2 separate regions of the Homo sapiens genome follow, and region 1 is linked to region 2. Evidence: fine-mapped expression QTL. A gene starts in region 2. The other region holds a variant in brackets. All regions are shown on one strand. Distances are between the middles of the regions.

Evidence for each region. PIP is the estimated chance that this variant, and not a neighbour inherited with it, causes the effect. A credible set is the group of variants that fine-mapping cannot tell apart.
Region 1: its variant is the best candidate, but not a certain one, in a credible set for the expression of KANSL3 in whole blood (INTERVAL, PIP 0.66).

Annotation. Positions count from the first base shown.
Region 1 is chr2:96,795,407-96,799,753 of GRCh38, reverse strand. It overlaps CNNM4 (cyclin and CBS domain divalent metal cation transport mediator 4), which reads right to left. Exons shown (of 7, transcript NM_020184.4): 2 at 2,599-2,742; 3 at 2,107-2,241; 4 at 528-697; 5 at 106-202. MIR3127 (microRNA 3127) reads right to left here and starts at 1,476; the gene lies at 1,401-1,476. The variant A/G (reference allele first, on the strand shown) is at 2,396.
Region 2 is chr2:96,636,415-96,640,797 of GRCh38, reverse strand. KANSL3 (KAT8 regulatory NSL complex subunit 3) reads left to right here and starts at 2,486. Exons shown (of 21, transcript NM_001115016.3): 1 at 2,486-2,515; 2 at 3,613-3,877. The coding sequence starts at 3,663. RefSeq lists a silencer at 2,557-2,766.

The sequences.
Region 1 (4,347 bases), 160 kb before region 2:
AGCTGGCTATGAGCTCTCGGGCCCATGCTCAGTTCTGGTGTCGGTCCATGGCTCCCCAGCTGCAGGGGGGCCAAAGGGCAGCAAAGACCATGCCCAACAACTCACCGGAGGGGACCGAGGTCAGGGCCATAGTCCCATAGTAGGAGAAGGCGCCCGTCTCAAACTTCATGTTCTCCTTCCCTGCCTCCACCTCCACCTTCCCCTGAAAAAACACAGGGCTGGAGTTAGAGACCAAGTGAGGGAGGAAACAAAGGATGAGGCAGGATGGGGAGTGAGGAACAAGGGACAGTGGGGCAGGAGGAAGGGCCGGTACTGGAGCCCTGGAGAGCTCAGGGGCCTGACCTGTGAGATCAAGAGTGGCCTCTCAGGGAGAGGATGGCCACGTGGGGCAGGCGGGGCTCAAGGGCAGGCAGCAGGCTCCCCAGGCAGGGAAGCCATGCACCTCCGCAGCAGGTGGGAGAGAGGGCCTGGGGGTTGCTGCAGTGCCAGGGGGAGCAGGTGGCAGGCCCAGGGCTGAGCGGGCTCACCTGCAGGATGAGGATGAAGTAGTCGGCCGGCTTATTTCGGGTGTACAGGTAATGGCGGGCGTAGTACTTATTGTGCTCGTCAAACTTGAGTTCCTGAATGACATCTGGGTACTTGAGTAGCCGCAGCAGGATCTTCTCTGATATCAGGGAGGGGCTAAACTGAGAGACCTCTGTAGGAGGAGAGAGAAGAGACCTCACACGGGGCTGGCCAGGTGGCCCTAAAGCTCGATCACTGCTGTGCCTCCACCCCAACCACAGCAGCCACGCTGTGCTCAGACGACTCCCGCCCTGCTCGGCCGGCCCTCGTTCTGCACCTCCCTGGGGAGGGAGCACGCTTGGCTTCTGACTGGTTGGATACAAGGCTGCCTGCCTGCCTGGGCTTGAACAGTGGCTCCTGCAAGAACAGCACATGACCTTGGGCAAATTACTTAACCTGCATCTCAGTTTCCTCATCTGTAATATGGGGGTAAAAGCTTCACAGGGTGGTTGTGAGGGTGAATGGGATAGCACATGGACAGCACTTAGTATATATGTGCTGTCCATATATACTAAAATATATAGACTATAATTATTGCATCAGCATCAATATCCCACAGGAAAAATAATGGAGAGGGAATTGCCACCCCTTTAGCAAGTAAGGGGTGGGAAGGAAGATGAATTGGGCCAGGGGAAGAGGGGGACAGAGCGGGCAGAGCAGAACCTGTCACCCAAGTCCCCAGTGGAGCTTTGAATCAGGGCTGAAAAGAGAGAAATGTCTCTGAACTAGAAGTGAATTCCTGCGGGAACCAGCACACGTCTGCAAAGGGGAGAGCTGGAGAGTAAGAGCAGAGCTGGATGCAAGCTCCTCAGAGTGGGTGAGCACACGAGGGGTCCAGCCACACCCAGCAGGCCTGCAGAAGGGGAAGCGTCCCTTCTCCTTCCCATTCCACAAGCCCTGATGGGCCTGGCCAGCCTAGGGGCCCACCTCAGTGGTTATTTTCTTTTTTGTTATTTTTGAGACAGAATCTTGTTCTGTGGCCCAGGCTGAGTGCAGTGGTGCATTCACAACTTACTGCAGCTTCAAACTCCTGGGCTCAAGCGGTCCTCCCACATCAGCCTCCTGAGTAGCTGGGACCACAGACATGCAACTGTCCCACCTCATAGCCTCCCAAGTAGCTGGGACTACAGGAGGGCACCACCATGCCTGGCTTTTGTATTTTTTGTAGAGATGGGGTCTCGCCATGTTGCTCAGGCTGGTCTCGAACTCCTGGGCTCATGCAATCCTCCTGCCTCGGCCTCCCAAAGTGCTGGGATTACAGGTATAAGCCATAGTGCCTAGTCATTATTTCCCAAACTATTAAATATAGTAACTTGGATGCTTCCTAGAAGTTTGCAGTAGCCGCCCATTAATGGCAAATGAATCGCAGGGAGATCCCCAGGGGTGGAGCAGATACCCGGCCCCTTCCAGGGGTGGCTGTGTTGTCTCTGCACCCCTCACCTGCTGCAGCCCTCGTCCTATGGGGGGAAAGCAGCCGGAAACCCAGGACTTCTCCCCCGTGACCGTATTTCCACCAAGACCGGAAGGTCCTCCTCATGCTACCTGTGGCTAGGAAGCGATGAGCGGCCAGGAGGAGCTGCGGGGAGATTTTCACTTTGAGCTCATTGTCCGCATCCTTGAAGGCAGAGAAGTCACGCTTGTTCTTCTCAGACACCCGCTTCCGGCTTCGGTTGTCAGCTGCCGGAAGAAGAGCGTGGAATTGAGAACACAGACCCCTGAGGACTTAGGAAGAGACTGGAACCCGCCCCGCAGCTCCTGCTCTCCAGCCCCTAGTCCCACGCAGGAGCAGCAGGCTCTGGCTGGCAGGGTCCTGGGCTGACGCCGAGGCACA[A/G]AGGCCGAGGGTGAAGGCAGCCTCCGGGCACTGCTCTCAGCAACCTGCTCCCTGCTCACCCCGGCCAGTGCAGGGCACCCAGCCACTGGGCCTCTGGATGCTAGGCCTCCTGTGTCCCTGCACTATGGCCCTTCCAGCTAGGGACACCAAGTTTCGATCCAAGCAGGAAAGGGGTCCTGGGCCCTGTGGAAGGCTGGACTCACTGTACATGTCGGACTCGTCCAGGATCTCCGACTTGATGATCTCCTCGATCACGTCCTCCAGGGTGACCAGGCCCAGGACCTCGTAGAAGGGGTCACCCTCACCCTCGTTGTTTACCTTCTGCACGATGGCCAGGTGGGACTTCCCTGTGGGACAATGCAGCAAGTCAGACAAGAGCCCAGAGGCCAGTCATGAGACTCCCTCAACCAAAACATTAACTCTAGACGTAGGGTCATAAGTCACCAGGATGGGGTCATGGTGGTTTTTATCTTTTCCATCTTTCCTGACGTTTCTACTGCAAACAGACATTGCTTTTATGAAAAGGAAAACTAAAAGTAATTTTTAAAAGCATGTCGTTAAGGACCACTTTTTTGTTTTTCTCTGTTTTTGTGGAGGAAGGACAGGGTCTAGCTCTGTTACCCAGGCTGGAGTGCAGTGGCGCAATCATAGCTCACTGCAGCCGCCAACTTCTGGGCTCAAGAGATCCTCCCACCTCAGCCTCCCGAGTAGCTGAGACCACAGGTGTGCTCCACCATGCCTGGCTAACTCTTTTATTTTTTGTAGAGATGGATCTCGCTATGTTGCTCAAGCTGGTCTCAAACTCCTGGGCTCAAGCAGTCCTCCCATCTCAGCCTCCCAAAGTGCTGGGAATACAGGAATGAGCCACCACGCCAGGCCAGGACTACTTGTTTAAATCGGATAAAAATGGCAATGCTGGGAGCAATGGCTCACATCTGTAATCCCAGCACCTTGGACGGGCTGAAGCGGGCAGATTGCTTGAGGCCAGGAGTTTGAGACCAGCCTGGCCAACACGGTAAAACCCCATCTCTACTAAAAATACAAAAATCAGCTAGGTGTGGTAGTACACACCTGTAGTCCCAGCTACTCGGAAGGCTGAGGCAGGAGAATTGCTTGAACCCGGGAGGCAGAGGTTGCAGTGAGCCGAGATCACGCCACTGCACTCCAGCCTGGGCAACAGAGCAAGACTCTGTCTCAAAAAAAAAAAAAAAAAAAAAAAAAAAAAAAGACCCTGTCTGGTATCACTTATCAGGGGCTTCTGGAACTCTTGGGGAGGGGAAAGACCCAAACTGACAAGGGCACAGAGAGGCCGAGCACTGTGATTAGGTGGGGCAGAGACTACAATTAGAGAGGGGCCACCCCCTCAACCCAAAGTGAGGGAAGGAGGCTGGCATGGGGCAGGACCCTCCACAGAAACCCTGTGGGGTGGTGGGTCTTCCCAGACCCCTTTTTGAAGGCCACACCCTGTTCTTATGGCCCCAGCCCCATGAGTGGCAAGAGGGTCCAGCCAAGAAGGGCTAGGTCCACAGTCTAGGTGGAATGAGTCCTGTGTGCCATACCCCACTCGCAGGAACACAGGTTTGGAGCAGCCTAGGAAGAAAGGCCCCCGGAAATCTGGGAAGGTCAAGTCAGGGTCTTCTGCATGGCTTCCCCTTCACAATCCAAGGGCCTCGCTCTAGGGACTAAAGAACTCATCCTAAATACCCTCGGTGGAGGATGTTTTCCAGGTCTTTAAGGCCACAGAAAATCCCCCAGCCCAAGATGGGCTGTTAAGAACTTCTAAGGGCCTCTTAGGGAGAGCAGAGAGAATGTGAGGTCTCATGACTAAAGTAAAAATTCTCACAATACACCCCATGTGATGGGGGGGGGGGTACTGCATTGTGAAAGTTTTTCACACACATGCCAGGGGCTATGATATATGTATTTCCCACTACAGGTTCTGGTCAAAAAAC
Region 2 (4,383 bases):
AATGTTTATAGAGCAAGCTCTTAATAAGAAAAGGATGACTATCCCAAAGGAAAACAAAGGCAAAGCTCCTATCAGATAATTGCCCAAAATGACAAAAAAAAATTTTTTTTAAAAAACCCTCAGTCTTGTTAATAATCAAAGAAATACAATGAAATACAATTTATGACTTTGCCAAATTGGTTTCAAAAGCCAAAAAAGATGTAAAAAAAAAAAATCAAACTCACTGGGCACGGTGGCTCACGCCTGTAATCCCAGCACTTTGGGAGGCCAAGGCGGGCGGATCACGAGGTCAGGAGATCGAGACCATCCGGGCTAACACAGTGAAACCCCGTCTCTACTAAAAATACAAAAAATTATCCGAGCATGGTGGCACACGCCTGTGGTCTCAGCTACTCGGGAGGCTGAGGCAGGAGAATCGCTTGAACCAGGGAGGTGGAGGTTGCAGTGAGCCGAGATCACGCTACTGCACTCCAGCCTGGGCGACAGAGAGAGACTCTGTCTCAAAAAAACAAAAACAAAACAAAACAAAAAACTCATTAATAAGCAAATAAATGGGATAAGATACCATTTATCACCTCTTAAATTGGCAAAGAATGAAACAAAATGATAAACGTGGTGTGCTGAGGAAAGGAAGGGGCAGAGAAAAGATACAAATCTGTTTTTAGTGGGAATGGGAATATAAGTAGAGAAATAGCAGAACCCTGGCCCCAAACAAGCGCCCAGGAGACAAAGTTAAGGGTAGGGAGAGGTGGGGCAGGGGCTGCTCTATTTGTGATAATTTCTATGGCCTTAAGCTCCATATTTCTAAACAGCACTTTTAAATAGCATTCCTTGATTTTTTCAAATCTATGAGGCATTTTCCCAGTTTTATTGTTTTCCCCGGGGCTCTCCCTCCTGGTCTTCTCTTCTCCCCCAGCTGAGACTAGTGGTCCCCAGTCCTGCAGCATAGCTATTGTCCTGGGATACTCTTTGCCATCACCTTCAGAATTCCTCGTCTGCTTCTTGTGTTAGACCCTGCTTCCCCGATCCTATGCCTTCCGTCTTCTCAGTTTACCCTCTCATCTTTGTGGAACACAGCTTTGAGTGGCTTTCTGAATGTTTCGAGTGTTTGCATGTCTGTACCTATCTTTTTTTTTTTTTTGAGACAGAGTCTTGCTGTGTCGCCCAGGCTGGAGTGCAATGGCGCGATTTTGGCTCACCGCAACCTCTGCCTCCTGAGTTTGAGAGATTCTCCCACCTCAGCCTCCCGAGTAGCCGGGATTACAGGCATGCGCCACCACACCTGGCTAATTTTTGTATTTTTAGTAGAGACAGGATTTCGCTATGTTGGCCAGGCTGGTTTTGTACTCCTGAACTCGTGATCCACCCTCCTCAGCCTCCCAAAGTGCTGGGATTACAGGCGTGAGCCACCGCACCCGGCCATTTCTTTTTTTAAATAGAAACGAAGTCTCACTGTTTTGTGCAGGCTAGTCTTGAACTCTTGGGCTCAAGCAATCTTCCCACCTTGGCCTCCCAAAGTACTGGGATTATAGGCATGAGCCACAGATCCCGGGTGAGATTTATCATCTTGAACCATGTCTCTTGCTGTCTTGTCTCATGTCTCTTGATGTCATGTTGTCAGTCAGTCAACCAAATAACCAATTATTGATCAGTCAACATTTGAACAATTACCTATGTTCTGGGTGTATGTTCTCTGGAGGATACAAAGGTTAATGTCCCTGATTTTGAGGATCTACTCTCTCTACACAAAACACATAGGAAAGTTAACCACACAAAACAATCTAGGGTCAGTAACAAAATTCTTTTTTTTTTTTTTTGAGACGTAGTCTCACTCCGTCGTCCAGGCTGGAGTGCAGTGGTGCAACCATGGCTCATTGCAGCCTGGACCTCCCAGACTCAAGTGATCCTCCCACCTCAGCCTCCCGGGTAGCTGGGACTACAGGCATACACCACTATCACACACACCTAATTTCTAAAATTTTTTGTAGATACGGGGGTCTCATCATATTGGCCAGGCTCATCTCAAACTCCTGAGCTCAAGAGGTCCTCCCGCCTAGGCCTCCCAAAGCGCTGGGATTACAGGCGTGAGCCACATTAGGTAAATTCTTAATGAGTAAATTCAGGTGGCTGCCCTGGTGGAGGTGGACCGTTGGGTGCTCGACCGCCCAGAGGGCACAAAGGACCAACACGGTGGGGGTGGCGAGAACTGGGGCCGTAGAAGCCAGCCTAGTCCTCCGCCCTCGCTTTCCCTACTGAATATGCGCGAGGGGGAAACTCCAGCCTAGTTGTTGACTTTCTGCTTCGGACATGCTCGCGTGTTCTTGGCTCTCCTCTTCCGGACAGAGGCGCCGGAGCTTCATCCGTTCCGGGCTTTGCCGCTCACCGCCTCTCCCTTCCCAGGCCGTAACCCGCTTCCGCGTTTTACTCGGTGCCCGCAGCGCCGGGGCGTGGAGGCGTTAACGCGCACGCGCTTAGGGATCCGGCCGTGGCCGAGCGCGCGGCCGTAAGACCGCGGGTGAGAGCAGCGTTGGCTTCGAGGGGAGTGGCGGGCCGTGGGGATCGCGGCCGTGGTTGGGACGGCCGGGGGTCTCGGCGAGGGCTTCAGGGCTCCCGGGGCATGCGGGGGCCCGGGCTAGGGCCGGCTGCCGGTGCTGGTCGGGCGGGGCGGGTCGGGCCGGGGGCGGGCTGGCAGGGGCCGCGTCTGGGCCTCCGTGACGCGGACGCCGAGCCCTGCCCCAGGGAGCGGGAGGCGGGAGGCGGGGGCCAGGCGGCTCCTCCTCGTCGCGAACTCTGGATGACCTTGGCCAAATCGCTTCAGTTCCCCGAGCTGGCGACTTCGTCTGTAAAATGCGAGTCATAGCCCTGTCTCCTAGATGGGCCGTGTGGAGGCTCAGTGGCGGGAACGCCTGCGGGGCAGCCGGGGTCCTGGGCGGTTTGCTAGGGACGCCTCACTGGGGGTGAGGGTGAAAGGGCTTCCACGGGGATCATTTTGTCACAGGCTTTGTTGGGGGGGCAGTTTTCATTTTTATGTAAACAACTCTGGAATATTACGAAGTACTTAACAGAACTTTTGTTTCGCACAATACGAGAGGCTTGAAGAAGTGGAGCCCTAGCTGGGATTCGCTTTTTTGAGGCCGGCGTTGCCCTGCCCTTTAGGGGTGCCCACGCTCTAGCTGCGGCCCCGGCTCCCTTCGCATTGTCGTTAGAGGATGGTGTGAAGCAACAGAGATCCTTAGCTTTCAACGAATTCATATTTGTGATTTCCTGTTTGTCAAAACCCTTCCTGCCCACCTAGGAAGTGGTGCTGGCCAAGCAAGTTTACTGTCTGTCCACGCGAGGTCTTTCTGAACCTTGGGGTCGGTGAGCTCTCCCGTTAGGTAATTTCAGTTCGCTAGAGGTTGAGTATGGGACAACTCGTGGCACCATAGTTTTTTTTTTCTTTTTTTTTGGTGTTGGTGTGGGATTCCACGAACCGTCCCCACCAGAGGTCTGCCGTGAAATGGATACTCAATAGGAATGATAGTAGGTTACAAAAGTAAGCATGTTAGATGGTGTAGATTGGGAGAAATTTAGGATATTGGAATTGACCTAAACTGAAACTTTTCACTGCAGGTGACTAGCATGCAGATACCCATGCTCTGACTTTCTGCCCCTCCACTGACATGGCCCACCGGGGTGGGGAGAGGGACTTCCAGACTTCAGCTCGACGCATGGGCACCTCGCTGCTCTTCCAGCTTTCAGTGCATGAACGGGAGCTGGACCTGGTTTTTCTGGATCATAGCTATGCCAAGCCTTGGAGTGCCCACCCAGATGCCAGTAGTGCCCGCCCCACCCGCATGCTCTTTGTCACTCCCCGGCGGCAGCACGAAAGTACCATGTGAGTTGGGGCTTCTAAGGGCTGCTGGTAACCTCACTGGGCAGTGATCAGATGGGAATTTAGAGAGGATTTTCTCAGGATTGACTGGGGGAGATTGTATGAGGCATTTGGATGTTAAATTCAGGCATCTCTTAAGCAGCATAAGGATAGCAGGCTTGAATGTGGCTATCTCTGTGAGACAGCTAACAAGAGTTAGGAAAGCAAGACGTGCAAATGAAAAGCAGACAACCTATTCCACTTAGATAGTAGGACGTGTGGAAAGGGGAAAATCGTAGAGGGTTATTTAACTGGTGAAGAAAAAGACTGAAAAGTTGATTTTAAAAGATTACCCACAGGATACGACTCTTTTATCACATTAGTCCAGTGCTCTGGGTTGCTTGACAGTGGCAACAATAGCCTTTTTATAGTAATGCATTTTGCTTTTCTTGGTTTCACACACGAAGGTTAGGAGCCAATTCCCAAGACGTTGCTTTTTCTCTTCCCTTGTTACAGAGCTGCTATCCATA